Homo sapiens: one gene and its partners. Each later gene encodes a partner of the first gene's protein in a complex. Each region holds a gene or a part of one and is shown on either strand. Other genes may lie near its edges. A codon is read from its position in the direction of its gene.

Region 1 (9,804 bases):
ACTGAGTCAATTAAACCTCTTTTCTTTATAAATTACCCAGTCTCGGGTATTTCTACATAGTAGCATGAGAACAGACTAGGTTTGTGTAAGTACACTCTATGATGTTCACACAATGATAAAATCACCTAATGATGTATTTCTCAGAATATGTCCCTGTCATTAAGTGATGTATGACTGTACATGAAAATTTAAGAGGAACAATTCTAGAGCTGTCAACTTGAAAATAGGCAAATCCAGATTTTGAGGAAGGGAAAAACTACTCACAAAGTTCTGTCTAGGGACTGGGGAATAAAGCAAGACAAAGACTGAACCCTCATTAGGATAAATGATAACCTCCAGTGTGGTAAGCTCCGTATAACTGAGGTATTCCAGAATAAGAAATAAACTCATCCAAATCTATCTGGATGACATATGTAGTCATGCACCTTTTAGATTTTTTCCCAGTCAGAAGCCAAAGACTTAAAAAGAGCAGAAGGTTCAGGCTGGAAAAGACTCTTCAGGGAGTTAAGCAGGCTTCTAGCACCTTCATCTCAAATACCGACCTCAGCTTATCCAAATGATGCCTGTATTCTTTGAATTCTAACAAGATCTACATATTAAATAACAGACTGGAATCACTTCACACTAAGGATAACTAATTATGACCAAAATAGCACCCTAGTGTAGTTAAAAGAATTCACGACTTTTTTGGTATCTGGGGATTTCAGTAACTTCTAATGAAGTGAGAATGGACGCTGCTTGAAATCATTCCCCATAGATGATGTGTGTGCTCAACATTTCCTGGAGGAGTTTTGGAATAGTAACAGAACAAATACTTCTGAAGAAAGTAGTTTTGATTCCTTTGGTGTCTTAAATAGCCTTCTTGGGACCAGGGACCAAAATTACCTCCTGGGGAAAGGACGTCAAGTCATTAGAGAAACATGATTCTAAAGTTCACTTTGCACACAGCTCTTCAAGAATGCAACAAATTCAGAGAGCAAGTTCAAACCACAGGTTGTAGGGCCACATAAAAGCAGCCTCTTTGTAGTCAGGCTCAAAACTAAGATCCAAAAGAAGGTGTGAGATGTGATCACCTCGCTCAACATGAGGACAAACACAGATGGAATGAGCTGCCAAGCAATTAAATGGATGATGATTAACATGAAATTGGATACTAACAGGGTATGTTGGGCAGAGGGCAGCTTTATCTTTCCTAAACCTACTTTGTTCCTTGAAACAATTAGTTCCTTTTGGACATAACACATAAATACCAGCTGCCAGAATCACTAAGTGTCCTTGGACTGAGCCCTGCGGCTGGAAATATCCACCATATGAAGGTGGTTAACAGGAGTGTGGTTGAAGCAGGAGTTAAGTCACCTGAGTTTTTGAATTTAAACAGGCTGCAGCAGGAAGAAAAATGTTTGCACTGGCCTGCTTAAGCACGATTAAGTCATATTTAAACAACACTAGAGAGAAGTTCAGTAGCTGCTGGCTGCCTCCTTCAGACAGACCCTCACCGCCCACTGACCTCTAGAAGCTGAAAGACTTTTCTATGTACGCTTTAAAAAAAAGCAGGGTGAGGCCGGGAGTGGTGGCTCATGCCTGTAATCGCAGCACTTTGGGCGGCCCAGGCGGGCGGATCACTTGAGGTCAGGAGTTCAAGACCAACCTGGGCAACATGGCGAAACCCCACCTCTACCAAAAATACACAAAATTAGCCAGGCATGGTGGCACACGCCTGTAGTCCCAGCTACTCGGGAGGCTGAGGCAGGATGGTTTGAGTCCGGGAGACGAAGGTTGCAGTGCCCCGAGATTGTGCTACTGCCCTCCAGCCTGGGCAACAGAGTGAGACTCCATCTCAAAGAAGGAAAAAAAAAAAATAAGTAGGGTGGGTTCAGTGGCTCACGCCTGTAATCCCAGCACTTTGGGAGGCCGAGGCAGGCGGATCTCCTGAGGTCAGGAGATGGAGACCATCCTGGCTAACACGGTGAAACCCCGTCTCTACTAAAAATATAAAAAATTAGCCGGGCGTGGTGGCGGGTGCCTGTCGTCCCAGCTACTCGGGAGGCTGAGGCAGGAGAATGGCGTGAACCTAGGAGGCGGAGCTTGCAGTGAGCCGAGATCGCGCCACTGCACTCCAGCCTGGGCGACAGAGCGAGACTCGGTCTCAAAAAAAAAAAAAAGTAGGCTGAACCGGCCAGCACCGTAGCTCACGCCTGCGATCCCAGCACTTTGGGAGGCCAAGGCATAAAGATTGCTTGAACCCGGGAGTTCGAGACCAGCCTGGAGAACATTGTGAGACCACCGTCTTTTTTATTTTTATTTATATTTTTTTTTTGAGACGAAGTCTAGCTCTGTCGCCCAGGCTGGAGTGCAGTGGCGCGACCTCGGCTCACTGCAAGCTGCGCCTCCCGGGTTCACGCCATTCTCCTGCCTCAGCCTCCCGAGTAGCTGGGACCACAGGCGCCCGCCACCACGCCCGGCTAATTAGTGAGACCACCGTCTTTTAAAAAATAAGTAGGGTGAATCAAAAGTGTTGGGCAGAACTAAACACCTCTGGCAACTGCCGTCAGCTGTTCCGCTCTACTTTCAGCTTGTATATGTACCTGGTTTGCCTCCAAAATGGATAAATTCCCAAACTAACTTTTACAAAAGCTCCAGTTTGTGTAAAGGTGAGGGAATTTGTCTCAAAGCAGTGCAATTAATTACACCTAAGAGAAAAGCAGAAGCTGGGGCTCAATTACTGTTAGCTCGACTCTGAATTAATTAAGAATTTGAAACTCTGTCCCAGAGCTGCTTTCTCCTTAATGATGTTAAACCAAGTGAGCACCTCCTCCCTCAGGGTGACTTTCTCATATTGGTAATTAGACACAGGTTCTTGGACCGCTAAGAGAACTCTTACAGGACCATCTGGCTTTTAAGTGCACCGGGTAATGTACCACCTCCCTCTCCGTTCTGGTGTTTTTCGAAAGGATGTGACGGGAATCTAGTGGAGGGTTCCTCTCCTCAACATTAGTCAAGGGGAATCGGGTTCCTCCACACCGCTCGCACCTTGATTTCCTCGGAGTGGAAGAGGTCGGCGTCTTCGGGGCTGTCCATCAGGATCTTGGGCCTGTCCCCGTCCTTGGTGCCCCCCGAGCTGTCCCTCCGGGGCGTCTTATGGCCACCATGCCGCTCCAGCGCGGCGCGCTCACTGCTGGTATTGCCCATGATGGGGGTCTGCGGGGACACAGGGAAGGCGGACGGCGCCTCACTGCAGGAAAGGGACCCTGAGCAAGGGACTCCCGGAACCGCGGGTCCCAAGGAGCCTGCGGAAGGAGTCGGAGCACCAGGACACCACGCCCCTCGGGCCGGGAGCCGGTTCCGGCTGAGTCGGCAGGGTTGCCGAGCTCTCGCAATCGCGCTTTACCTGCCCAGGCAAGCCGCGGCAAGAACGCAAGGGGCGCGAAGATAAACCGACACTTTCCCAACCGCTTCACCACCCCTCAGCGACTTCCGCTTCCGGCGACTCCGTAAGTCGGCCCGGCCTAGGGCGTGGAGGTGGCGGCGGCCAGCTAAACGCGCGAGGCTATCTCGATTCCATTTCCGCTTCCGGTCTTGAGCGGTGCGGTAACAGGTGCCCCGGGCCGTCTCTGCAGGCCTCGGAGCGCGCAGTCGCAGTCAGCAGCCGGCCGCCCAGGGCCAGGCCCAGGACGAGGCGCTGCCGAGGGCCGGCAGGGGGCACCCCAGCGCGCGGGCAATCTGAGCCGTTCATGCGCTGGGCTGAATAATGCCATTTAGCTATCTTTGCTCACTTATAGTTGATTCTACACTCTGCAGCCAGAGGGATCTTTCTAAAATGCAAATCTGATTCAGAAACTCCACTTCTTAAAGCCCTTTTAATGCACGTGTTCTCACGCTTTACAGTGCATTAGGTTAACCTGGAGCGCTTGTTAAATGCATCCCCCACTGCAGACCTGCAGAATCATGATTTCTACAGATTAGGGTCGGGGGTGCAGGCAGTCTTGCAGGTATTTGAAAAAATGGCAGACCATAAGATCTCTGGAAATTTCTTATGTCTAGTAGGTTGGGGGTTGTAAAATGCTGGAGTTATTCGTGTATTTTTATTGAGTGTGCAATCTTTTGATAGGTAATTTTGCAAGATATCTTGTAATCACTTCGGAAACATCCTTCTGCATAAGATGCATTAGCGTTTGTCATTTACTCTGGTCAGTGCTTCAACAAGAAGTGCATACAAATACGGTAGTAAAATATTCTCATCTTCTCATTGTCAGTCATTGTCATATTTTGTGGGTTTTTTGGTGTGTGAATATCTCAAAATACTTTGCATTTGCCGGGTCAGGTCATGCATTTCACCCACTGAACATTTATTTAGTACCTAAAAAAGTACCAGACATTGTGCTAAGGAAATGAGGAACACAAGATGACTAAGATAAGGTTTCCTGGGGGGAATTCAGCAGTATGCATCAAAATTTAAAAATGCACCTTCATTTTGACACACAATTTTACTCCTAGGAAACTTGTGCAGAAATACACACATGAAAATTATTTACAAGCATTATCTACAAAATATTTACATGCAAAAATATATTCTAAGATGCACTTGTCACCCCCCATGCCCCCATATATTTTAATTTCTGAAACTGGATGCTTTTTACAATAATGGAATCTTACACTTGGTGAAATAAGGAAATGAAAAACTACAAAATCCTAAAAGTTGTTCAGTAGGAGAATGGCAAAATGAATGGAATACATTCATTTTGTAGAATACCAAGCAACTTTTAAAAAGGGAGAAACCATTTTTAGGTCACTATGGGGAAGTGTCTATGATATTGCAAGGTCCGGAAGCAAGTGAGAGAACAAGTTCAAGGGCAGGAGCTCTGAATTCAGCCTGGCCATGTTCAGATTCTGGCTTTACCATTTAGTAACTGTCACCTTAGTCTCTTCTTTTGTGAAATGGGAACAAAAATAACACCTACTTCATAGGCTTGTTTTGTGAATTAATTGGGAACGTGCATAAAAATGCTGAGCATAGCACTTGACTCTTAGTAAACACTCAATAACTGTTAACACTTTTATTAGCACTATTAGGCTAGCAAATGGAAAGTTCTGGAAGGGTATACAACACATTGTTAATAGTGGTCTTCTGTGGGGAGAGGAGGGAGATTGCAAATAGGAGCAGACAGAAAAGGGACTTTCACTTTTCATTTATATAGTTCTGTATTTGAAAAGTTTTCTATTGTGAGGATGTACTACTTTTTAATTTAAAAAAATAAGATATGGTTCCAGCCCCAAAGGAATTAATACAGTACAGGCTGGCACCGACCCACAGAAAAGCAATAATATAGCTAGGTAAGGGATCCTGTGGGAGCCCAGAAGGGACTTAAGCCAGGCCAGGAAAAGGGATGGGAGCCAGGAAAAGGGATGGGAGCCAGGAGGGTCTTCCTGAAGCTGATGACTGAGAATTTGAATGTATTCAGTATAATCAGAAATGTTGAATGTGCTTGCTGAATTAAATAAGCTAAGATACTGTGGATGACCCAGGATATCTTCTTTGAGCTGCTTTTCTAATAGTGGCCCTGACTTGGTTACATGAGACAGTGGGGTGTTGAGTTTTGAAATCTCTCCCAAACAGCCGGAGAGATAAGAAAGAACACATGAGCTGTGGATTCTTTATCTGAGCTATGCAGATGCTTTGATGCATGAAGAAAGTTTTAAGACATCTGCACTAGCTTGAATAAGATAACAGTGAAAGCATGGGTGGCCCTTGATGTCAAATACAATCAACAATATCCTGAGGATGCCACCAACTGCTGATTGGAAACTCTTACCACATTGTATCAAGATTTCATGACAAAGAAACTAACATTGGTATCTATCAGCTATTGACCCCATATTGAAAATCATGGGTAGGGTAGACTCGCCAATTACAAGTGTCTACTTGGGTCCCAGCTGTGTCTCTCTTGGGTCATTTTGTGTTACTTATCTGTGTAACAATGGTTTGTGACTTTCCTAAGCATCAGAGCGTCTCATCTTTCTCTGATTCTCTGCTGATATGGATGTCAGACCATTCCATCTTGGGGGCTGGAGGTGTGCCAGGAAGTATAACTGTTAGCACATTGCTGTGTAAAAGGCATCATCTACTCACTGCTGTCTGTCTGGCACCAGGGCAAAGACAAATGATAAATACCCTAGATTCTCCCCCAAACAAACCAGGGCAATTTTAACACAGCCACAGCTAGGAGTACCCCTCCCCCACCCCCGCAACCCTGGCTTCAAATTCACTCCAGCTCCAAGCACAAAAAGAAGTAGGTTTTCAAGTCCTTAAAAGTCACCCAGAGTGAGATAAAATCTCATTTATCCTTAAATTTATGATTAAAAGGGTTAAGGATAATGTTTTGGGGCCTCCTCCATAGGATGGATTAGAATCAGTATAGCACTTCTGAACTGACCAACCCATTTGTTTTATATAAGGAAGAGTCTAAGTCCCAGAGATCGAACAGTTTTGCCTGAGGTCACTCAGATGATCATAGGTCATACTGAGACTGAATTCTGGATCACCTGGCCACTCCCCACTACATCATGGTCATGGCACCTCATCAAAAAGACCTTTGGTTCCCCAGCTGGCCTGTCTACAAACATTTGTACTGTTCTGAAGAACCCTCCCCATCTAAGAACAGCCAGGGCTCTGATCACAAATAACTCAATGGCAATATTGAGTGCCAATTATGAGCCAGGCACTGTTGTAACTCTTGGTTACAACAGTGAACAAAACCAAGTTCTTGCCCTCCAGAGGAAAGAGTCCACACACATATGCACATGTGGTGAGAACAGGCAGTGTTCTCACTAAACATCGGTAGCTGGAGGAAGAAATTTCACATTTGGACTATGCTGTAGACTAAATTGTATCCCCCCAAAATTCATACATTTGCACTCCCACTCCCAATTTTATAATGTTTGGAGGTGGGGCCTTCAAGGGGTAATTAGGGTTAGATGAGCTCATGAGAGTGGGGCCCCCATGATGAGATCAGGGTACTTATGGGAAGAAGAGACGCTGGAGAGCTTGCTCGCATGCTGTCTATTCACGCCCATGCTCAATGGAAAGGCCATGTGATGACAAAGCAAGAAGGCGGCCATCTGCAACTCAGGGAAAGAGCCCTCACCACACATCAACCATCCTGGCACCCTGATTGTATTAGGCCATTCTTGTATTGCTATAAAGAAATATTTGAGGTTGAGTAAGTTATAAAGAAAAGAGGTTTACTTGGCTTATGGTTCTGTAGGCTGTACAGCAAGCATGGCTCTGGGTATCTGCTTGCTTCTGGTGAGGCCTCAGGAAGCCAAGGGGGAGCCGATGTATTGATGTATCACATGGCAAGAGTGGGAGTAAGAAAAAAAGTGGGAGGAGGTGCCGCACGCTTTTAAACAACCAGATCTTGTGAGGGCAGCACCAAGACGATGGTGCTACACTATTCATGAGAAGTCCACCTCCATGATGCAGTCACCTCCCACCATGTTGGAGGCCTCACCTCCAACATGGGATTACATTTCAGTGTAAGATTTAGGGGGAAAAGTATCCAAATTATATCACTGATATTAGACTTCCAGCTTTCGGACCTGGGAGAAGTAAATCTCTGTTGTTTAAGCCACCCAGTTGATGATTTGTTATAGCAGTCTGAGCTGACTAAGACAGACTCAAATGTGTGTGGGCTGCTAGGATAGAATTACAAGCTTACTTTTAGGGCTTAACCAGATTTCCACCAGGCCTTCTGAATTTTGCCTAGCCAATGTAAGTAACACTGCCAATGTTTGAGAAACTTGTCCATCTTTTCTTGCTAGACATTCTTGTGTTCTCTTTGCACTGAGATGTGAATATTGTGACAGAGAGTCATCAACATAGAATTAAAAGAAGTTCATTCTACAGCATTTGGTCTACAACCTTAATTGGCAAATAGCCTCATTTTGTGACTTTTAGGTTGTCTGAGAAAATTCTGTTTCTTGACCTGGGTTGGTAATTATTAACATGTTTGCCTTGTAGTAACTTACTAAGCCATACATTTCTTTTGTGTAGTTTCCTGTATCTTTATTTTATTTTCAATAAAGTTTTTTTTAAATAAATAGCTTCACTCACAGGGTAAGCTGAAACCTAGAAGGGAGAAGTGCCCAGTTCAAGGTAACACAATGTTCTTAATAAAGTTCACCTCAAGTCTATCCTCTTTTTTTTTTTTTTTGAGATGGAGTTTCACTCTTTTCACTCAGGCTGGAGTGCAGTGGTGCAATGTCGGCTCACTGCAACCTCCGTCTCCCGGGTTCAAGCGATTCTTCTGCCTCAGCCTCCCAAGTAGCTGGGACCACAGGCGCACCCCACCACGCCTGGCTACTTTTTGTATTTTTAGTAGAGACGGGGTTTCACCATGTTGGCCAGGCTGGTCTCAAACTCCTGACCTCAGGTGATCCACCCTCCTCGGCCTCCCAAAGTGCTGGGATTACAGGTGTGAGCCACTGCACCTGGCATCTCTATCCTCTTTTAAGAGCTTTGAAGGAATGGAGGAGAAAAGGATGTACACTTTCTACCCCTTTTCTAGAGGACAAGTGACAAACTAAAGCAGTATCCAGGCAAAGATCCAACGGAGGTGAAAACAATGAGAGGAAGTCTGTCTCTGTCTCATCTCTTTAAAATGTAAGCTCCCAGGGATTTGAATATCAAAGTTTCATAATCACTTTAACATATGCTGTTGGGACCATCATACCCCATCTGCATGTGCCCTTCTGCGCATGCCCCAAACTTCCTAACTGTGAGCAGGTGCAACTCTGAGGGCCTTCTGGAGAAAGCTTTGTCGACACAAGTGGGAACCCAAGGGGACCAGAGAAGACACCCTGAGAGAAGCCCTCAGCCAACCACAGAGGAGCCAGTTCCCTTGCCCCTTGGATGTGCTAACTCTAATGAAGCAGCGTCATTTTTCTGGGGTAACACCCGAGGTTCGATGTCTCATGCTAAGGAAATTGAAGACATGGCCATGCAAGGAGTGGGTTTAAGAGTGGAAAGTTAAATAGATGAAAGAAGGAAGAGAGCTTCCTCATGCAGAAGAAGGGGTCCTGAGTGGGTTTCCCTGGTTTGGGGCAAGGTGTGGTTGGTTTTAGGGATGAGCGTGAGGAGATGGTATATGATTTACATGGGGTGTAGTGGATTGGTTGGACCAGATGTGCCATTTTCATAGCCCGTGAAGAGGCTGGTCATCCCACTCTAATCTTTTATTATGCAAATGGAATTTTAAAAAACCTGGCTGGTGCCATGTTATCTGCACACGTGGCAACAAAGAAAAGGGAAGAGGGAACCTCCATGTTGAATATACCTGGTTTCCAGCTATCTGTTTTCTATTGGCACAGCTGCTGGTATTTACCTATGCAAGCCTCTAGCTTGCTTATCTATGCTTGCAGCTTGATTTTTCAGGCTGCTTTTTGTTAAAAAAAGAAATGATTTGGAGACTGCGTTTTTATTAAAAGAAAAACCTTACTGAGGACTCTCTTACCCTCACTAACTGTCTAAATAATTTCTTTTTAGCTCTCGTATAACTAAGATATATTCCCTACCGTGTCTCAGAGGTCCCCAGTGGAAATGCACCCTAGATGTCCACAGCAGTAATTGGATCAAGGAATTCATTGATTATCTTCCTTTCCTTTTCTTTATCTCTTTTTAGGAGCACCTTCCAAATAAATACTCAGAAACACCTCCCAAGACACACTAATTGCATGAAAATCCTAGTTCAACCACATAGGTTACAGATGAGGAGGGACAATAGCTTGCTGAATTATAGAAAAAGTTAG
Region 2 (9,676 bases), on another chromosome or scaffold:
GCCAAGATGGGAAAACTGCTTTAGGCCAGGAGTTCAAGACCAGCCTGGTAAACATAGCAAGACCCCATCTCTTTAAAAAAAAAAAAAAAAAAGAATTAAAAAAATGAGAATTCCCAAACATTAAAAAATTGAATATAGATAAGTAAATATATATATGACATAAATTTAAAAAGATGAAAACTATAGATTCAAGTTATCATATTAAAGTATAGAGATGAATGATACTTTCATGCCATCTACCTACGTACAAATTAACTCTTCCCAGTAAATATATTTACATTTTTCTTCTGAAGTATATAAATATACAAACACCTGTTTTAAAGCAATGAATCATTACCATTTGACTTTTTTTTTAATAAAAAAAAAATTTTAATATAGATGGGCGCTTACTATGTTGACCAGGCTAGTCTTGACCTTCTGGGCTCAAGCAATCTTCCCATCTCAGCCTCGCAAAGTGTTGGGATTACAGGCATGAGACACTGCCCCCAGCCTATTACTATTCTAAATGTATATGCTGATATGAGCAGCTGCAAATATATCAGCATGTCTAATTTTCTAAGGAAAAGTCATTAACAGAAGTATATATGCTAAAGAACTATAAACACAAAGAGTTTTTTTCCTGCTAAGTTCATTTTTATAATTAAATCTGGTGGCTAATTTACACTTTTACATTGTTATACATGAGGTTTGGAACACTGAAGAAAGGCTGGGAAAAGAAAATGATACATAAATGCAAAAAGAATCATCAGTCCTTGCCTGTATGAAATCAGCAGCAGTCACATAAACAGCTATCTCAGCCATCATTTAAATATTCCAAAGGTCAGAGGTCTCAAAACAGTCTTTTCTGGAACTGGGTGCAACGACTCACACTTGTAATCCCAGCACTTTGGGAGGGCAAGGTGGGTGGATTGCTTGAGCCCAGAAGTTCAAGACCAGCCTGGGCAACATGGCAAAACTCCATTTCTACTAAAAATAAAAAAATTAAAAAAAATTAGCTGGGTGTGGTGGCTTGTGCCTATAGTCCCAGCTACTCAGGAGCCTGGGGTGGGAGGAACACCTCAGCTTGGGAGGTTGAGGCTACCTACAGTGAGCTGTGATCACACCACTGCACTCCAGCCTGGGCGACAGAGTGAGACCCTGCCTTAAAAAAAAAAAAAAATTCTTTGCTGGCTAATGATGAAAAGGGGAAAGAGTTCTGGAAAGATGTCAAAAGAACATGTTTGTAAACAAACACGGATGAAATCTTAGGTAAGAAGAAAAAACCTCTAAGAAACATGCCTTGATAAGTCATAGGCAGGATGCAGTGAATCATCTTGCTACTATACACAGGTGTGGGATATACAAAGGTCATATTCATAGGCGCATCAGCAATGGCACTTTCCAAACTTTCTCAAGTGACAAAAAAGCCTTCACAGTAAGCTGACTAGCAGCTATTGAATTCAAAAACTTAGCAAAACTTTTTATGCTTTATGTCTTTAACCATATGTAAAATACAAAATCTCACCCTATTTCTCCATTTGAAATTTCTTCAGACACTTTCTAAGCATACCATCTTTCCAGGCCTTTTAGCATTGTGTAGTCAAAGATGAATAAGACACACTCTCTACCCTGATATCATAATTTAAGAGAGAAAAAAGACACACTGAGAAATAACTAGATACAGGATGAGGATTAAATAATAAAAGCATGAACAAAATGTTGATAAAACAGAAATGGAAGCACGTGTGGAAATCACAAAAGGGGTGGCATGAACTTTAATGGATGAATGGAAGTCTATCAGGTCAAAAAAGAAACAAGAAAAGACATCAAGGCAAAGTGAATAATATAAACAAAGACATGAAGGCATAAAATCTATGTTAGGTTTGAGAAACAAGGACAAGTTCAATGTGGCTGAAGCATGAGTACTGGGGTGAGGTGGTGAGGGCAGGAAATGAGACTTTGGGAGAATCATTTAATTAACATTATTATTCCTATGAGAAAATATGCAGAACAGAAACAAAAAGAAAAATCACCTTATGTCTTTGATAGTTGCTCGTTTCAGTGGGTCAACCTGCAGCATATGCATCAGGAGAGTGGCGACAGAACGATTGAGATATTCTGGGATATAAAAGACACCCCCTCGGATCTTCTTAAATAACGTAGGTACATGCTCATCATCAAATGGGAGGGTGCCACAAAGAAGAGCATACAAGATAACACCACAGCTCCAGATATCAACTTCAGGACCTGCATACAATCTAAGAAAAAAGATGACAACACAAACCTGAAATGCAAGAATCACTTTTTCTCTATGTACCCTACTTCTATATATAGGTAGTCTACATTCAGTACATATTCATTTCCAAGGTCTTTAATGAAGTCCATGGCTGCTCCCCAATATTCAGTGTTTGTTCCCCAAAGAGAGTAATGGGGCTAGCCAACTACTATTCAAGCCTGCCAAGTGAATAGGGTATTTTTATTTGTCACAAATTCATTTAACTGAAACATACGAATTAAAACATATAATACTTTCTGTGGTTGATTTTTGAGGGAAACAAAGTAGATGACCACAAACTTGAAAAAATACTATGGTGTATAGGTTAAATCTTTTTCCCAAAGAACTATTACAAGAAAGAAAACATATATATAATGTATACATATAATAGAATTTCTACCCCTGGCACACCTTTAAAGAATATTAAGGCTGGTCACGGTAGCTCACACCTGTAATCCTAGTACTTTGGGAGGCTGAGGCGGGCGGATTGCTTGAGGCTACGAGTTTGAGGCCAGCCTGGGCAACATGGTGAAACGCTGTTTCTACTAAAAATACAAAAAATAGCCAGGGATGGTGGTGCACATCTTAGTCCCAGCTACTCAGAAGGCTGAGGTGGGAGGATCATCTGAGCCCAGGAGGTGGTACAGTGAGCTGAGATTGTGCCACTGCACTCTAGCCTAGGTGACAGAGCGAGACTCTATCTCAAAACAAAAAATATATATATATATATATATAATATATCATATATATAGAGAGAGAGATATTTAAAACATTAAAGTACTTAATTAGTACTGTGTAGACAGTATTTATCCTGTATCACATTATCCTGAGTACTTACTATTTCTATTCTCATCACTTCCTAACTCATATGACTAAAATCATCTTTGATCCAGATAACCTATGCTTATAGTATTATTCCTTTTTTCTCTTACGTTTCTACAGCATTACAATTCCCATGATAGCATATTACCATACTCAAACCTGGGTCTGAGGTAACAAAGTAAATCTTTACTATTCTAATGAAAAGAATATAATCTGTTTATATAAAAAATGGTGATTGTTTACATCATTTGCTGTATTGTTCAAACTCCTTGCAATGGACTGAATGCTTATGTCCTCTCAAAATTCATGTGTTGAAATCCTAACCCCCAAGGAGATAGTATTAGGAGGTGGGGACTTAAGGGGGGTGATTAGGTCACTAGTGCAGAGTTCTCATGAATGGGATTAGTGCCCTTATAAGAGCGACCCCAGAGAGATCCCTTGTCCCTTTCACCATGTGAAGTTACAGTGAGCATACAGTAGTCTATTAGGAAGCAGACCCTCACCAGATACCAAATCTTGATCTTGGACTTCCCAGACTTCAGAACTGTGAGAAATACATTTCTGTTGTTTATAAGCTATCACCTTTATTGTATCTTTCTTATAGCAGCCCAAATGGACTAAGATAATTCTTTATCTGCTATTTGCAATAATACTTTAACCATATTTTCTCTTATAGGATTCTGTTAACTTTTAAAATCACACGTTGATCACTGTAGAAAGACTTGAGTTTACCACTGCAATCTGTATAAACATTTTTATAATGTACCAATGAATAAGTTATGAGTAACTACACAATCTCTACTTGTGTAATTTCATGAAACAATATTTTCCCCCAAAATCTCATTTTTCCAAACACAAAATATAAAACAATGCTCTATATACTTTGGAAAATATGCAAGGTATTATTAAAGAACTATATCTAATAAATAAATGACACTAGCTTAAATTTAGCAAATTCTTACTCTCTTATCTGCACTTTTGTAAAATGAAAGATATGTTAAATCAGGATCTACTTCAGTTATTTTTCTAATGGGGAAAACTTCGTAAGTATATTTATAATGACATCTAAATGAAATGTTTAACATTTTTTGATATAACCATTATCCCTTTAACAGTGGAAAAATAAATGAATAATCCATTTCTACCATGTTAAAATCTTACCTTCCATAGAGAATATATTGTAATTAAATGTTATCAAAATGAACACAAGATTACAAAAAGCTTATGCTTCACTGATTATTACCTGCCTGAGATGACTTCAGGTGCTGCATAATTTGGAGATCCGCAACTAGTTCTCAGAAATTCACCATCTGACATCATATTAGATAATCCTAAAAATAAAAGTAATGTTTACTTGGTGCTAGATATTTTTAAAAGTAGATAAAGTCATATAAATATGAGCAAAATTTCAAGTCCTGGATCCTCCATATATCATTTTTTTTTAAGTTATTAAAAAAAAGCAGTGGAAAGCATTTAACTGGAAAGAGACCGTCTCAGAGTGCTTACACTGTAACAAAAAGCTAAAGCACATCACATATATGAGTGAAACTAAATTTCCTTTCTAAATAAAAATGTTGATTCCCATCACAAATGAGGTTATTCTGAAGCATATTAACTTTCCCAAACATGAAAACATCAAAATATTATTTACCTATTTCCATAGTTGAAAGAATAAAATAGAGACTACTACTTTTTTGCCCTGTGCTTTCAAAAGCCTCTTTAAATTCTGTAATTAGAAACCAGATGGGCCCCACCTCATAAAGAGATTATGTTCCAAAAGTTTTTAATTTAGAAATATTTAATTCAACATGGAAAAAATAATCTATTGAACCAAAAATCTAGCTGAGCTATAGTAATAAATAAGTTTCATGATTTAGAGAAGGAAGAGAAATAGAGAAAGTAGTTTCTAGGTTTTTAGATTAAAGACAAGGTATAGACCACAAATAGGCAACAATAGCCTGTACCTTTCTATCTCTTTCTCTTTAATCTCTCACTTCCTAGTCTTTTTCTCAAATACCCTATTAAGGCATCCTTTCCACGTATGTTTATCCCAGAAAGTGTTTGGAGTATAAAAATCACATTTTATGTACCTTTTACCCCTGACAAAAACTGTTCTCTAATCAAGTTATTAGACGTTACACCTAAGGACCTCTTTGTGGATCAGTTCAGAAGGGCTTTTTTCCAACTGCATGCATATTTTCAGGTACCTTGGTTTATATGCATTCATCAGGGAAAGTGCCCATACTTTCATGAGATTTTCAAAGAAGTCTGGGACTCCTCCCCTCTCTTCAAAAAAAAAAAAAACAAAAAAACAGTTATGCATCATTTCCTTAGGAGAAAATGCAGATTGAATGGATTTATCTTGATGACAACCTTCTAACTTCTCTAGAGGTATCTGCATTTTTAAAGTGTATTTAATGAAAATTAATGAAAATTTAATTAAATGAAAAAAAAAAGCTACTGAGGAGATTTCAGCTAATTCCTTTTCATGGTACAGAACGTACAAGGTTGAAAAGTAAAGTTCTTAGTTCAATGAGTTGTTATGCTTTAAAAGGTAGCTAGTACCTTTCTGAACAACCCTGGAGTTACATACCGAAATCGGCTATCTTGGCATTCATGTGTGCATCCAACAGGACATTCTCTGGTTTCAGGTCTCGATGAACAACCATATGCCTATGACAGTAATCCACAGCAGACAGAATCTGCTGAAAGAGCCGCCTGGCTTCCATCTCTTCAACCTATCAAGCACAAAAGAAACTGCATTAAGAATATCTGGGGCTGGGCACAGTGGCTCATGCCTGTAATCCCAGCCAAGGCAGGTGGATTACCTGAGGTCAGGAGTTTGAGACCAGCCTGACCAATAAGGTGAAACTCCATCTCTACTAAAAATACAAAAATTAGCCGGGCATGGTGACATGCACCTGTAGTTCCAGCTACTCAGGAGAGTGGGACACGAGAATTGCTTGTACCAGGAGGCAGAGGTTGCAGTGAGCTGAGATCATGCCACTGCGCTCCAGCCTGGGCAACAGAGCAAGAGTCTGTCTCAAAAAAAAAAAAAAAAAAAAAATCTGAGACATCTATTTGACAAGAGTTTTAATTTCATAATTAGGCTAAATATAATTAAGCAAGCTAGAATTATGTTGGAATTCTCAACAAATCAGACAAAATAAACCAACCAAAAGCTTGTCAAAGCTCAACATGTCAAAAGACAAGTTTGTCTTTGTCGCTAAGCAGAAATATTTAAATTTCAATTAATATTATTAAATGTGCACAATGTTTTGGGGAATTGACAGTAAAACAAACTAAAACAGAACATATGTGAAAGTGCTAAGAAAAGGAAATAACTGATCTTCAACATGATTTTATGGAACAGATTTTAAAAAGCATACGCATCATGTTGGCAATTAAGTGAAACATATTTTCTAAAATCAGTATTTCAAAAGGAATGCTTTTTAAGAAAGAAAATTTATCTAACACTCTACATGTTTAGTTGAGCACTACCATAAAAGCAACTTCAACCTTGAAGATATCTTTGCATTGTTCTATGTCCCAATACTTTCCTTTTTATTAGTTTAGAGATTTAGTGTACCAGATAGTATGTTACTCACCCGTCCATGCTTACAGATGTAGTCAAATAATTCACCTCCAGACACATATTCCATTACCATAAAAAAATCTGTTGGAGTGCTGATCACCTGGTATCTTTTTTGTTAATTAAAAAAAGTTAACAAAGTATGTTACTTTAACCAAAATCAAACTGGTATATCTACTCTTGCTACAATTTTATATTTCAATGTTTTATAATACTTTAAGATGGCAACAAATTACATGTTATCAAAATAATCACAGAGCAATAAACACGGACCATTACAAAATTATTCTATTTCTTGAGGCTCACGGCCGTTCCTTTAGATCCTCCCTTTCAAGTTTACATAATTTTTGAAATCTTTCCCTCTTCAACAACTAATTTTTCCATATAAACAAAAATTTGTTTACAGTAAAAGGAGATGAGGTATCACATATTTAAAGATAAACAGAAAATATACTTGGGCCAGACACTATGGCTCATGCCTGTAATCCCAGCACTTTGGAAGGCCAAGGTGGGAGAATCACTTGAGCTCAGGGCAATGTTTTGGGGAATTGACAGCAAAACAAACTAAAACAGAACATACATGAAAGTGCTAAGAAAAGAAAATAACTGATCTTCAACATGATTTTATGGAACCGATTTTGAAAAGCATAGGCTTCATGTTGGCAATTAAGTGGAATATATCTTCTAAAGTCAGTATTTTACCAGCCTGGGCAACATAGCAAGACCTCATTTCTGTAAAACATACATATATTTTCCTGGACACGTAACATGATACTACAGGGATACATTCAGCAAAATCCAGGAAGTGAAAAATGACCATTTCCTCAACAAATAAAATGCAAGAAAAAAAGGGAAAGGATAAACTATACGTTAAAAGTAACTTAAGAGACATATTGACCAATTATGCTGTATAGACTTATTTTGATTCTGATTCAAATAAACCAACTTTAAAAACCATTTATGAAACAATCAGGAAAGTCTACATGCTGATTAGTGGTGGATAATGTTGTTAATTATTTTAATTAAGATGTGATAGGCCGGGCGTGGTGGCTCACGCCTGTAATCCCAGCACTTTGGGAGGCCGAGGCGGACAGATCACAAGGTCAGGAGATTGAGACCATCCTGGCTAAACCAAACACGGTGAAACCCCGTCTCTACTAAAAATACAAAAAATTAGCTGGGCATGGTGGCGGGCACCTGTAGTCCCAGCTACTCGGGAGGCTGAGGCAGGAGAATGGCGTGAACCCGGGAGGCAGAGCTTGCGGTGAGCCAAGATCGTGCCACTGCACTCCAGCATGGGCAACAGAGCGAGACTCCGCTTCAAAAAAAAAAAAAAAAAGATGTGATGATACTATGCTTATGTTATTTAGAGTTTAAAAAAGTATTTTCTAGAGTAGATACTGAAGAGTTTACAGATTAAAAAGATAATGTTGAGATTTGCTTCAAAATAATCTGGCGTAGATAAAACAATGAATTGACTACTGTTGAAGGTGAATAAGACATGCATGGGGTTTCACCGCGTTACTTTTGTAAATGTTAAACAATTCCCATCATGAAAAATTAAGAGTGTGTGTGTGTGTGTGTGTGTGTGTGTGTGTGTGTGTGTCTGTGTGTCTGTGTTTCTAGGCATCCAAAGCTGGGCACATTAAAAACTAAGAAAAAAAATTAGCTTTATTTGATAAAATAAATTTTTTTCCCAAAAACTACAACTTACACCCCTATACACAATTTTACCAAACCAAGTTTTGGAGACGTTAAAATTAGTTACTTTTTTTCTTTTGTTTGAGACAGAGTCTTGCTCTGCCACTCAGGCTGGAGTGCAGCGGCCATGCTCTCGGCTCACTGCGCACCCCACCTCCTGGGTTCAAGAAATTCTCCTGCCTCAACCTCCCGAGTAGCTGGGACTACAGGCATGCACCACCATGCCCGGCTAATTTTTGTATTTTTAGTAGAGAGGGGGGTTTCACCATGTTGGCCAGGCTGGTCTCGAACTCCTGACCTCAAGTGATCTGCCCGCCTTGGCCTCCCAAAATGCTGGGATTACAGGCATGAGCCACCAAGCCTGGCCAGAAGAAATATTTTGAATGGCAATCATTAGTCTTTGGGAAGAAACATGGCAAGGTATTCTAATTTATATAAAATAAACGAATATGACTGAAGAAGAATTGAGACTATTTCAAATGAACTTTGGAAAGGTAATTATACTGAGAACTCTAGAAGAAATAGTTTTATAAAAGCTATCTTTACAAGCACCAAAGTGATCACGTAAACTGAATACTGTAGGGCAGGTGCATCTGCTGTAGCACCTCACTGTAGGTTGGTCTGATTTAGTAACAATTTTCAATCACTTTTGTGCTCTGTACATCCTAGATGGGGCACAAAAGAAAAGAAGTGATGACATTCTAATAAATAAATTTAGCTGCCATTTCTGAGTATATCACAGGTCTTCAACAGATATTCTTGGAATTAATTATTTCATGAAACCTCTAAATCCTTAGCAGCCACTGTCTTACACTAAAGGCCAGTCTAGAGCAATGAAAATCATAACGTTACTAAGCACTTACTGTCTGCCAGGCACTAAGCTATTAAATGGTGACACAACATTTATTGAGTACCTACTTGTATTGTACTCGGTGAGATCAAAAGTTGGTGCCTCTACTCGTGGAGCTTACAGTTTAGCCAGAAAGACAGACATTAAATAAAGATTCTCTTCAAACACAAATATGATCTCCAGTAGCCTCTCAATTTAGAATCTTCAAAGGTTTCCCATTGCTCTTAGGTCCTGAATAAATCAGGCCCTTGCCATCTCTGTTGTTTGGTCTCACCTTTGAGTCACAACACTGAGTCATACTACATTTTTCAGTGTTAGTCATGCTGTACCTCCTCCTGCTACAGCTCCTTTGTATAAGCTGTTTTCACTGACCTGAATCCTATACTATGACCTGAGTGAGCCCTAATCATCCTTTAGATCTCAGCTTAAAAGTCACTTCCTAAGTCCAGGTGAGGTG
Region 3 (9,676 bases), on another chromosome or scaffold:
CAGCATCCCAAAGTGCTGAGATTACAGACATGTGCCACTGCATGCAGCCTGAAGTATTTTTTTTAAACTTCTCTATGTATCCATATATTATTACCACTTTTTTCAACATAAGTGACAGCCATTACTTGGACATGCCTGCTCCCAAGAAGTCATATTTAATAAATAAGCTATTAATCCTCTAGGCGAAGGACTCCAATATGCAATTCTCTAACACAGGTCACAAATTAGCATTCTAAAACCAGACTTACACCTTAAAGGGCATGGATAATATGGGAGAAAATACAAATCAGTAATTTATTTTGAAACAAGAAACTATTATAAGATACCATTCCTCTAGAAAAATACTAATCCTTTAGCATTCTAATACTTTTATTTCTAGATTTGTAGGTTCATGGGGAAAAAAAAGAGTATCTGTTCAAATATGAAAAAATAGGAGAAAACTTGATTAAACAAAATATAAAAAGTAAAATAGACAGGCTACAAAAATGAAAATTATACTGTATTAGTAACAAGTACAATTACAAAGGATGGAGAAAGGGATGTCTATAAAGGAAGGTTAGAAAAGTCAAAATACATTTCCAATTAAATGTAACAGATTAAATCTTTTGTCTCCAACTCTTGAAACATCACTAAAATGACATCAGCAATAAAACAGGCATATAAAGACAAAAAGAACAAAAGAGACAGCAGTAATCAAGAGGAGTCACCAAGGATGACAATAGATAAACAGTAATAAAGACTAAGCCTACAAGAGAAAGCTAAAACCTAAGCCTATAGGGGTAGAAACCAGTAAAAAATAAACATCTGCATACAAAGCCTGGGAAGCCTTAGAAATTGGAAACACAGGGAACTGCTCAAGGTAGAAGTGAGAGATGAGCTGAAAACAGGACAAGTGCTTGAAGTAAGAAGCTTTTAAACTCACCCATATTGGGGAATAAGACCTATAATTTACTCTAGTAAGGCTGAACCAGCTCTGCTCTCAAGGACACCAAGGCAGGGATAAGGCATCCTAAGGAAAACATGGGGGCTAAGACAAAGTCAACATACTAACTAGTGAGACTTGCATCTCTTTTCTCCACTCAGCTCCTGGAGCACTGGCAGCTAAGCTAAGGCCTTTAAGGAAATGGGAAGGTTTCTTCTGGAGCAAATATCTGATCCAAGAAAACATATTTGTTATTATTAGCATTTGGTATACAGTAATAAAACAGACAAGTCCCTACCTATTCAAGCTATGAGAAAACCCAGCAATCAGTAAGTCCTACCCACATGAGCCTGGCATTTAATACCCTATTCTTAAATATTTAGTGGACAGCCAAGAATCACCAAATATCTGAAGAAGGGCCATGCATCAAAGACAAAAATGAATAAAATGAATGCAGAGAGCACAGAAGGTACAGAACAAGACGGAACAGAGGAAGACTTTTTTTAAAATGCCATCCTCAGACTAGGTTATTATATCTGTGAGGCAAATAACAGCAGACTAAAAAAATGAAAATTTCAGAAAATAAGAAACTTTTGAAATAGAAAATACGGGTGCTGAAATTTTAATATTCAACTGGTAAAACTGAAGAAATACCCACAAGGTAAAACCAAGAAATAAACAACAACAGAAAAGATAAGAAAAATATATATCAATTGTGCCTGTTTCCCATTTCTCCAGGCAGAATTTTTTTTTTTTTTTTTTTTTTGGTAAGGAGAAGCAGGAGTAAAGGGGAGTACCTGAAATAGAAATGAATCATGTTAAGAAATAGTAAAATCAAAATTAACTTGGTTAATAAGTTTGATTTTGATAAAAGTAAATAGACATGCTATATAGAACAAATGAATGAGTAATGTAAATAACTTAAAATTGAGAGAAAAGCTCTCTTTTCAGGGCTAGCTACAGCTCTCCCACAAAGGGGCTTTTGCATACCACATAACCTGGGTATGAGAAAAAGTATGGGCAGAGGGCAGTGTTGAGTTTTTGTATCTGTAACTTAAGGTAGTGTTCAAAATGTCCTACAAAGTTCCTTCCAGCTGTAAATTCTTTATATCTAATTCCTACCTCCTTCGTGGAGCCTGTTTTTACTACTCCAGGTACATCAGATTTCTGAAACCAAAAAATGAATGCAATTTAAATGTGGCTAGAATTGACTAGCAAGGCCTAGATCTTTAAGTAATAATAATATATTTTGTAACGATTAATTACATTAAGATACATATTCAAAGTATTTGTATACCCTGGAAGCATAAGTCTGAGGATTATGAGTTCTGGGGGCTCAAGCCAATTCCGTCATTAATAAATCACGTTACTGTGAGCAATCATATAAGCCGCGAGGCTCAGTATCCACATCTGTATAAACAGGCTAAGGAGATAATCTTTAAGATCCTTTCTAGTTCTACATAGTTTATGATTCTAAACAAATATATGACTAAGGGAACTGGTTATTAAATAGACCTCTTAAAATTGGTTGCTGACATTTTGATGCTAGTAAAGGATAAAGGGGAGTTACAAAATACATACAGAATTAAAGCAGAACAGCTTACCCTTCCATTCTTACAGATATAATCAAATAGCTCTCCTCCTGAGACATATTCCATCACCATGAAAATATCAGATGGTGTACTGATGACCTGGTACCTGGTGAGAGAAAACATTGTCTACAAATATTAAAACACATATATTCATTCATTCAATAAATATTTACTAAGCACCTATAGTATACCAGGTACTAGGCTAGGAGCTAGAAAAACTGCAGGAAACAAAAATTCTCTGCTCTCATGGAGTTCATGTTCCAGGAACCAGGAAACAGACACTAAATAAATAAGCAATATCTCAGGTGGTGGAACATGCTATGAAGAAAAATAAAGCAAATGAAGGGGAATCTTTGTATACAGAGTGCTAAAGGAAAGCCTCTAATAAAGTAACATTTGAGCTGAGCCTAAAAGAAGAATGGGAACAAATTATGTAATTATCTAGGAGGAAAGCGAAACTGGGAGAGGGAATAGCAACTGCAAAGGTCCCCAAGTAGAAGCCTGCTTGGCATGTTCGAGGAATATTAGAGAGAAATAGGATGTAGAGTCAAAGGTGTTAACTGCAGGCCAGAAGACACAGAATTTTACAAGCCATGATAAGGCTTTGGCTTTTACTCCAAGGAAGATGAAAAGCTATCGTACGTTTTAAGCAGTCATGTGATCTGGCATATTAAAAGTAAAACTATGGCAGCAATGTGAAGAATTAACTGTCAACAGTAAAGGTAGCCACAGGAGGTTACTTCAGGATTTCATGAGACAGATGGTGGCTGAGACCAGGTTGACAGCAATAAAGGAACTGAGAAGCAATCAAATCCTAGCTTGATTGTGAAGGAAGAAATGAAATGCATGGTAGAAAGTGAAAGAAACAGGGAAGTTAAAAATGGTTCCTAAGTTTTAGCCCTGGGTCATTGGCTGTTAGCCAAGATGGTGAAAACTGTGGGAAGAGCAGGTTTGGGAGAGTAATAAAGAGTTCATTTTGGGCCGGGTTGAGTTTTAAATGTCTTGCGAACATCCAAATGGAAATGTAAAGTCAGCAGTGAGCAAATAAGTCTGGTGTAAGAAGAGATCTTAAAGCAAGAGATGTACATTTAGGGGTGGTCAGCATATGGATGGTATTTAAAACCTAGCACTCAACAAATGAGAAGAGGTAAGAGTGAAACAAGTTTGAGTCAGCCAGTTCAGGAGAAAAACCTAAGCATCTTTAAGTTATTGCCTGCATAACAAAGCAGAAGCTGAGCAGGAAATAGTTATTTGTAGACTCTATAACTGGCAACTGTAAAACAACAGTAAGATTACTGCCCTTTTGAAACCTTGGATTCCTGAAATTTTGTTATCTATATGTTCAGGTATAAGCAGGATGGGGAAAAACCCTTTCTACTACCGCATTCTCACTAGTGAGGCTAACTGACATCATGTGGGCATTTGGAGGTCAAGAGTTTTTACTAGCAGATCACTGTTGGTTTTACAGCAATGGGGCACCAAACATTACCAGAAGAGCATCTTTCCAGGAGACAGGAAAGAATGAGAAGATAACAGCTGATAAGCACAAGGGCAAAACATGAACACAGGCTTAAATGACCATCAATGGGGTTAGAAAAATACATGAATGGGAAGAAACTTTTATTTTTTTTTGGGACAGAGTTTCGCTTTTGTTGCCCAAGCTGGAGTGCAATGGCACGATCTCAGCTCACTGCAACCTCCGCCTCCCAGGTTCAAGCCATTCTCCTGCCTTAGCCTCCCGAGTAGCTGGTATTACAGGCGCCCACCACCATGCCCAGCTAATTTTTGTATTTTTACTGGAGACAGGGTTTCACCATGTTGGCCAGGCTGGTCTCGAACTCCTGACCTCAGGTGATCCGCCTGCCTCAGCCTCCCAAAGTACTGGAATTACAGGTGTGAGCCACCGCACACAGCCTAGGAAGAAACTTTTCAAAACCCTTAGGAAACAAAAAGAAGTGTCAGTCATTTTTCTCACTTGTCACATTAAGTAGGTTAACAAAAAAGATGAAAAGATGACTGGACTATATTTAATATAAACAGAGCTTACAGTTTAATTATATGAGGATGCCTGAAAAGCTTGAGGTTCTGAATTTCTCTGCGGATTTTTCCTACCACATCAAGGCTCCGAATCTTCTGTCGATTGAGTATCTTCACAGCTACTTTATGCCCAGTCAATTCATGTTTGCCAACTGTAAAAGAAGTAATTTAATAAATTAGTACTAAGTATGATTAATAATATATTTACACATATTCTGGCCCGGTGCAGTGGCTCATGCCTGTAATCCCAGCACTTTGGGAGGCCGAGGCGAGTAGATCACTTGAGGTCAGGAGTTCGAAACCAATCTGGCCAACATGGCAAAACCCCATCTCTACTAAAAAATACAAAAATTAATGGCCGGGAGCGGTGGCTCATGCCTGTAATCCCAGCACTTTGGGAGGCCGAGGCGGGCAGATCACCTGAGATCAGGAGTTCGAGACCAGCCCGGCTAACATGGTGAAACCCCGTTTCTACTAAAAATACAAAAAATTGGCGAGGCGTGCTGGTACACAGCTGTAATCCCAGCTACTCGGGAGGCTGAGGCAGGAGAATCGCTTGAACCCAGGAGGCGGAGGTTGCAGTGAGCCGAGATCACACCACTGCACTCCAGCTTGGGCAACAAGAGCAAAACTCTGTCTCAAACAAACAAACAAATACAAAAATTAGCTGGGTGCAGTGGTGGCACATGCCTGTAATCCCAGCTACTTGGGAGGTGAAGCAGGAGAATCACTTGAACCTGGGAGGCAGAGGTTGCAGTGAGCCCAGATTGCACCACTGCACTCCAGTCTGGGGTGATGATTGAGACTCTGCCTCAACAAAATAAAAATAATAATATATTTAGACATATTATAAGAGTAGTCATCTAGCATCCTCAGAAAATAGCTAAGCAAATATAAGTTATTTTCTCTTTTGCCAGATTCATCCCAAATGTTCAGATGTTTAAGAGTGATTACATAGGAGAATACATAAGAAATTGGTAACAGTGGTTTCTTCCAGAAGAGAAAGCTAGAAGACTAAAGGAAGAGGGGAAGGAGACTTTTTTGCTGTATACCTTTTCGTATTTTTAAATTCTTTTAATTTTTCACCTTTTAACCTATCATACACACAGACTAAAATTTTTCTTTTAGTATCATTTATATGGATATTAAAACATATAGAAATTGGTGTAACCAGCATTATATAGTCAGATACAGAACAGTTCCATCATCCCAAAAGACTCTCTCATGTCATAGATACATTTCCCCATCCATAACCTCTTATACCTTTGAAATTCTGGTTCATGTGCATGTGGTTTCTAGTTTTTTTGGTTTCTCTGTGTTTTAAATTTTTTTTCCTGTTTTTTAATTTTTTTTTTTTTTTTTTTTTTTTTGAGACAGGGTGTCACTCTATCACCCAGGGTGGAGTGCCGTGTCACAATCAGAGCTCACTGCAGCGTTAACCTCCCCAGGCTCAGGTGATCAGGTGATCCTCCCATCTCAGCCTCCCAAGTAGCTGGGACTACAGGCAGGCCCCACCACACCCAGATAATTTTTTTGTATTTTTCTGTAGAAATGATGTTTTACCATATTGACCAGGATGGTCTCAAACTCCTCAGTTCAAGCAATCCACCAGCCTCAACTTCCCAAAGTGCTAGGATTATAGGTGTGAGCCACCATGCCCAGCCTCTATTTTTTTAAATGCAGTTAAAAATAAAGGGAAAAAAAAAATCAAGTCATTTTATCTTTCCATTTTAAATGTTATCACTAGACAGTCGGTGGTGACAGAATTTGGGTTTAGGACATAATCCCAAAAGACACAATCCCAAATGCCATAATCCCAAATGTTGAAATCCCAAAAGATCAAAATCCCTAAAATCTAAAATTCCAAAAATCACAATCCCAAAAGAACAAAATCCAAAAAATTGAATTCTGGAAAAATAATTTGTAAAAAGTTCTCTAAAAGACACTTATTTCCATTTTTAAAAGATTTATTTGAGAAACATAAAAACACAACGGAACAGTTCATAGGCCCCTTTACACAATAAAATAGGCACTAATAACATATTTTTGCAAGCATAAATACTCAGGTATACTAACAACCATTGCATGGGTATAATAGGAACAGAGAAAATGTATTCATGAAGAAATAGATTAAAAAGCAAAATGGATAAACACGTATCACTATGGTTGGTAATCAGGTGCACCCAGATTCATAACTGCGGTCATCTGAAATACCAGACAACCTGAATCTTCTGACAAGATCGATCAAAAACTGCAATGGGTCACTACCGTTTGCACAAAAACTGCAATAGAGTCACCCAAAGAGCCAAGATCTTGAGAAATTTTATCTTTCACAAATACAGATGAACAAAACGGACATCTCTTCATTTACTGAGCAAGTTTCAACATTTTTATGTACATGCACAATGCTTACACATTACGTCACATTGTGATAATGCACTTTCATGGAGTCAAATATGCAAAAAAAAAGTGCATAAAATGAATTAGAATTCTCTAAAAGCCTTTACAGAATTTATACCTGCAGTATTAGAAATGATGCAAAGATAAAATACATAGCATAGCAAATTGGCACTATGTGTGAAAGGGCAGAAGTCATACCTGATTGAATAATTTGGCAGGGGAGCTTTCTTATATTTTTCACCTGCATATTCACTTCTATGATCTTCAAAACATTCACTTGTGTTTAGACTAGAGCGGTTGTGGTCTAAATATTTTGTAAGTATATGCTGACCATTTAGAAATCTGGTTATTGCTTGGCCATTGCAATTAAGTGATTTTCTGTCTTCACAACACCAATAATAATTAGCTTTTAAACTTTTCTCTTTCAGCATTAAGTAGCCTGGTATACTTAATTTATCACAGCCTTTTTGCAAGGGAACAATTTCACAGGTCTCTTCCACTGTGCTGTAAGGAATACAGTAAGAAGGAATGATATTTGGCTTTCTCAATACCAAATCCGTATTAGTCAGCATTCTCGACAGACATAATTCTCGACAGACAGCATTCTTGAGAGACATAACCAATAAGATATATATATACATAGATATATGAGAGACGATTTATTAGGGGAATTGGCTCATGCGATTATAGTGGCTGATAAGTTCCAGGACAGGTCATTTTCAAGCTGGAGACCCTGGCATGCTGGTAGCTTGGCTCAGTCCAAAGACCTCAGAACCAAGCCAAACCAGGTCTCAGTCTGAGGCTGAAAGCCCAGGACCCAGGGGGCTGCTGGTGTATGTCCTAGAGTCCAAATGCCAACAAGCCTGGAGTTCTGATGTTCAATTCAGCAGAAGAAAAGTCCGTTCCAGCTCTCAGAAAGGCAACAATTTGTTTTCTCTGGGCCCCCAGCAGATTTAATGGTGGCCACCGCTATTGAGGGCAGATCTTCCCCACCTAGTCCACTCAGACTCACATACTAATCTCCTCACAGACAAACCCAAAATAATGCTTTAACAAGTTTCTAGGTATTTCTTAATCCAGTCAAGTTGACACCTAAAATTAAATCCATGAATCCACCCCTCGTCAATTTGGCACCCATAAACCATCTCCTTAAACCATACTTAATTTCCAAATAAATACAATAAAAAGGCAATCGGTTCCACCTAATATGATGCAAGTAAAATGATGCAACTATCTTTCATACAACCGAATGTGCACTAATTTCTACCCCAGGTGTTGGCTTTCAGCATTTCAACATTTGGGATTTTAATCTTTCATGATTCTGATTTTCAGGATTTCAGATGTGTGAGATTTTTAGAATTTAGGGATTCTGATTTTTAGAGATTTTGATCTTTCAGTATTTCAACATTTGGGATTATGGCATTAGGGATTTGGTCTTTTGGGGATATGATCACCAGTAGAATTTAGACAGTCATGAGGCTAAGTCTCCAAAAATTTAACCTTTGTGCACCCTTTCTCAGGAACCTACTGGAGAATATATATTCCATCAAAATCAGGAAGAAACCCAAGAAAGATGGCATGGAATCCAGCAAAGAAGGGATCCAATATAGGAGAAAAACTAAGAGAATCTCAAAATGGTGAAGCAAAGTCACAGTAACATATGGAGAAGGCCTAGAAGGCAACAAATCCAGACAGGAATGTGACAGAGAATCCAAGATAGTTATTTCTGAGGGATTTTACAAAGGCACTGGAAGATGTAAGAAATTAAGCTTTAGGTAAAAAAATTAAACAAATGAAAAAAATGAGATAATTCATGAATGCCAGTAAAATTAAAGTTCTGTAAGAAATAAAACATAGTCATAGATACTGACTTAGCAAATAGTATTTACACAGCCACAATTATGAAAAAACCAAATATAGGTTTTATTAAAAGTACGATATAACTATATTAGGAGGATGGGGGTGTAGTATGAAATGTATAAGAGAAAGAAGGAAGGCAACCCTATAATCACAGCTGAAATCAACTGTGGAAATGAAGCACATTCTAATTTCTAATAAGGCTTTCTCCAATCTCCAGTACTAATTAGATGTGATTAAGAGCAGCCAACTTGACTGTTAAAGCTTGCTTCAGGAAGTATCTTTTTTCTTAGAACAAGTATGTTGAAACCTAAGCATGGTGCTAAACACATCCTCCAAGAATCTCCAAGCTCTGGCTTGGCACAGACTTTCTCTTGACAGCTGCTCAGCTGAAACAGGACTGGGAAATAGCCACAATACTGGATAATACTGGTGGACTCAAGACCTGGAAAGAATACTAAGACAGAATCCAATTTGGGCCTGAACTCCCAAACCATCACAAACCAACCAAACTCCTATGATACCCTGCTCAACTGAACTTCAACCCCAATTAACTTTAAGAAATGACTGGAGCTTATCCAAAACTCTGGACATATATCCTGTCATTTAATAAGGAACTGGAATAGGAATTCAAAGCATTCTCTCAAATTCATTATTTTGGCATTATGTACTGAGCATCTCCTACATGCCAGTTAATGCTGCTGGGGAAAACAGTATTGACCAAAAGCAACCTGGGCTATGGGACCTTCCCGGCCTGTAATGATGACAAAAATAACAGTAAAGTGAGAAAAAGCAAAAAGTCTTATAATACAAAAGAATAAAACAAAAAAATGAATAGACATTAAACTCATCCATGAAATGCATGATT

The links.
Region 2: the proteins of PRKAB1 (region 1) and PRKAA2 are in contact, whole or in part, in a crystal structure (PDB 8BIK), measured with the Homo sapiens proteins. Residues at the interface, in NP_006244.2 of Homo sapiens: Pro79, Thr80, Val81, Arg83, Thr106, Ser108, Asn111, Val113, Ile115, Gln154, Val155, Asp159, Phe160, Glu161, Val162, Phe163, Ala165, Leu166, Asp169, Ser170, Lys172, Cys173, Pro186, Tyr187, His188, Gln189, Glu190, Pro191, Tyr192, Ala202; in NP_006243.2 of Homo sapiens: Gly9, Val11, Lys12, Ile13, Thr21, Lys29, Lys31, Asn48, Arg49, Arg53, Asp56, Val58, Ile61, Lys62, Ile65, Gln66, Lys69, Val82 (codon at 6,771), Ile83 (codon at 6,768), Ser84 (codon at 6,765), Thr85 (codon at 6,762), Pro86 (codon at 6,759), Thr87 (codon at 6,756), Asp88 (codon at 6,753), Phe89 (codon at 6,750), Phe90 (codon at 6,747), Met134 (codon at 5,745), Met164 (codon at 4,393), Ser165 (codon at 4,390), Asp166 (codon at 4,387).
Region 3: the proteins of PRKAB1 (region 1) and PRKAA1 are in contact, whole or in part, in a crystal structure (PDB 6C9H), measured with the Homo sapiens proteins. Residues at the interface, in NP_006244.2 of Homo sapiens: Pro79, Val81, Arg83, Leu103, Pro104, Thr106, Val113, Ile115, Asp159, Phe160, Glu161, Val162, Phe163, Ala165, Leu166, Met167, Val168, Asp169, Ser170, Gln171, Arg201, Ala202, Pro203, Pro204, Ile205, Leu206, Pro207, Pro208, His209, Leu210; in NP_006242.5 of Homo sapiens: Gly20, Val22, Lys23, Ile24, Thr32, Lys40, Lys42, Asn59 (codon at 4,656), Arg60 (codon at 4,653), Ile63 (codon at 4,644), Arg64 (codon at 4,641), Val69 (codon at 4,626), Ile72 (codon at 4,617), Arg73 (codon at 4,614), Ile76 (codon at 4,605), Gln77 (codon at 4,602), Val93 (codon at 2,613), Ser95 (codon at 2,607), Thr96 (codon at 2,604), Pro97 (codon at 2,601), Ser98 (codon at 2,598), Asp99 (codon at 2,595), Ile100 (codon at 2,592), Phe101 (codon at 2,589), Met145, Met175, Ser176, Asp177, Gly178, Glu179.

What each region holds. Positions count from the first base shown.
Region 1 is NC_000012.12:119,661,630-119,671,433, reverse strand, and holds the start of PRKAB1 (5'-AMP-activated protein kinase subunit beta-1), read right to left. Parts: upstream 3,302-9,804; 5' UTR 3,190-3,301; coding exon 3,031-3,189; intron 1-3,030. UniProt on the Homo sapiens protein: Non-catalytic subunit of AMP-activated protein kinase (AMPK), an energy sensor protein kinase that plays a key role in regulating cellular energy metabolism.
Region 2 is NC_000001.11:56,688,496-56,698,171, reverse strand, and holds part of PRKAA2 (5'-AMP-activated protein kinase catalytic subunit alpha-2), read right to left. Parts: intron 6,779-9,676; coding exon 6,685-6,778; intron 5,815-6,684; coding exon 5,670-5,814; intron 4,408-5,669; coding exon 4,320-4,407; intron 2,238-4,319; coding exon 2,013-2,237; intron 1-2,012. UniProt on the Homo sapiens protein: Catalytic subunit of AMP-activated protein kinase (AMPK), an energy sensor protein kinase that plays a key role in regulating cellular energy metabolism.
Region 3 is NC_000005.10:40,772,884-40,782,559, forward strand, and holds part of PRKAA1 (5'-AMP-activated protein kinase catalytic subunit alpha-1), read right to left. Parts: intron 9,672-9,676; exon of another isoform or gene 8,472-9,671; intron 7,456-8,471; exon of another isoform or gene 7,199-7,455; coding exon of another isoform or gene 7,150-7,198; intron 4,704-7,149; coding exon 4,562-4,703; intron 2,621-4,561; coding exon 2,527-2,620; intron 2,090-2,526; coding exon of another isoform or gene 2,045-2,089; intron 1-2,044. UniProt on the Homo sapiens protein: Catalytic subunit of AMP-activated protein kinase (AMPK), an energy sensor protein kinase that plays a key role in regulating cellular energy metabolism.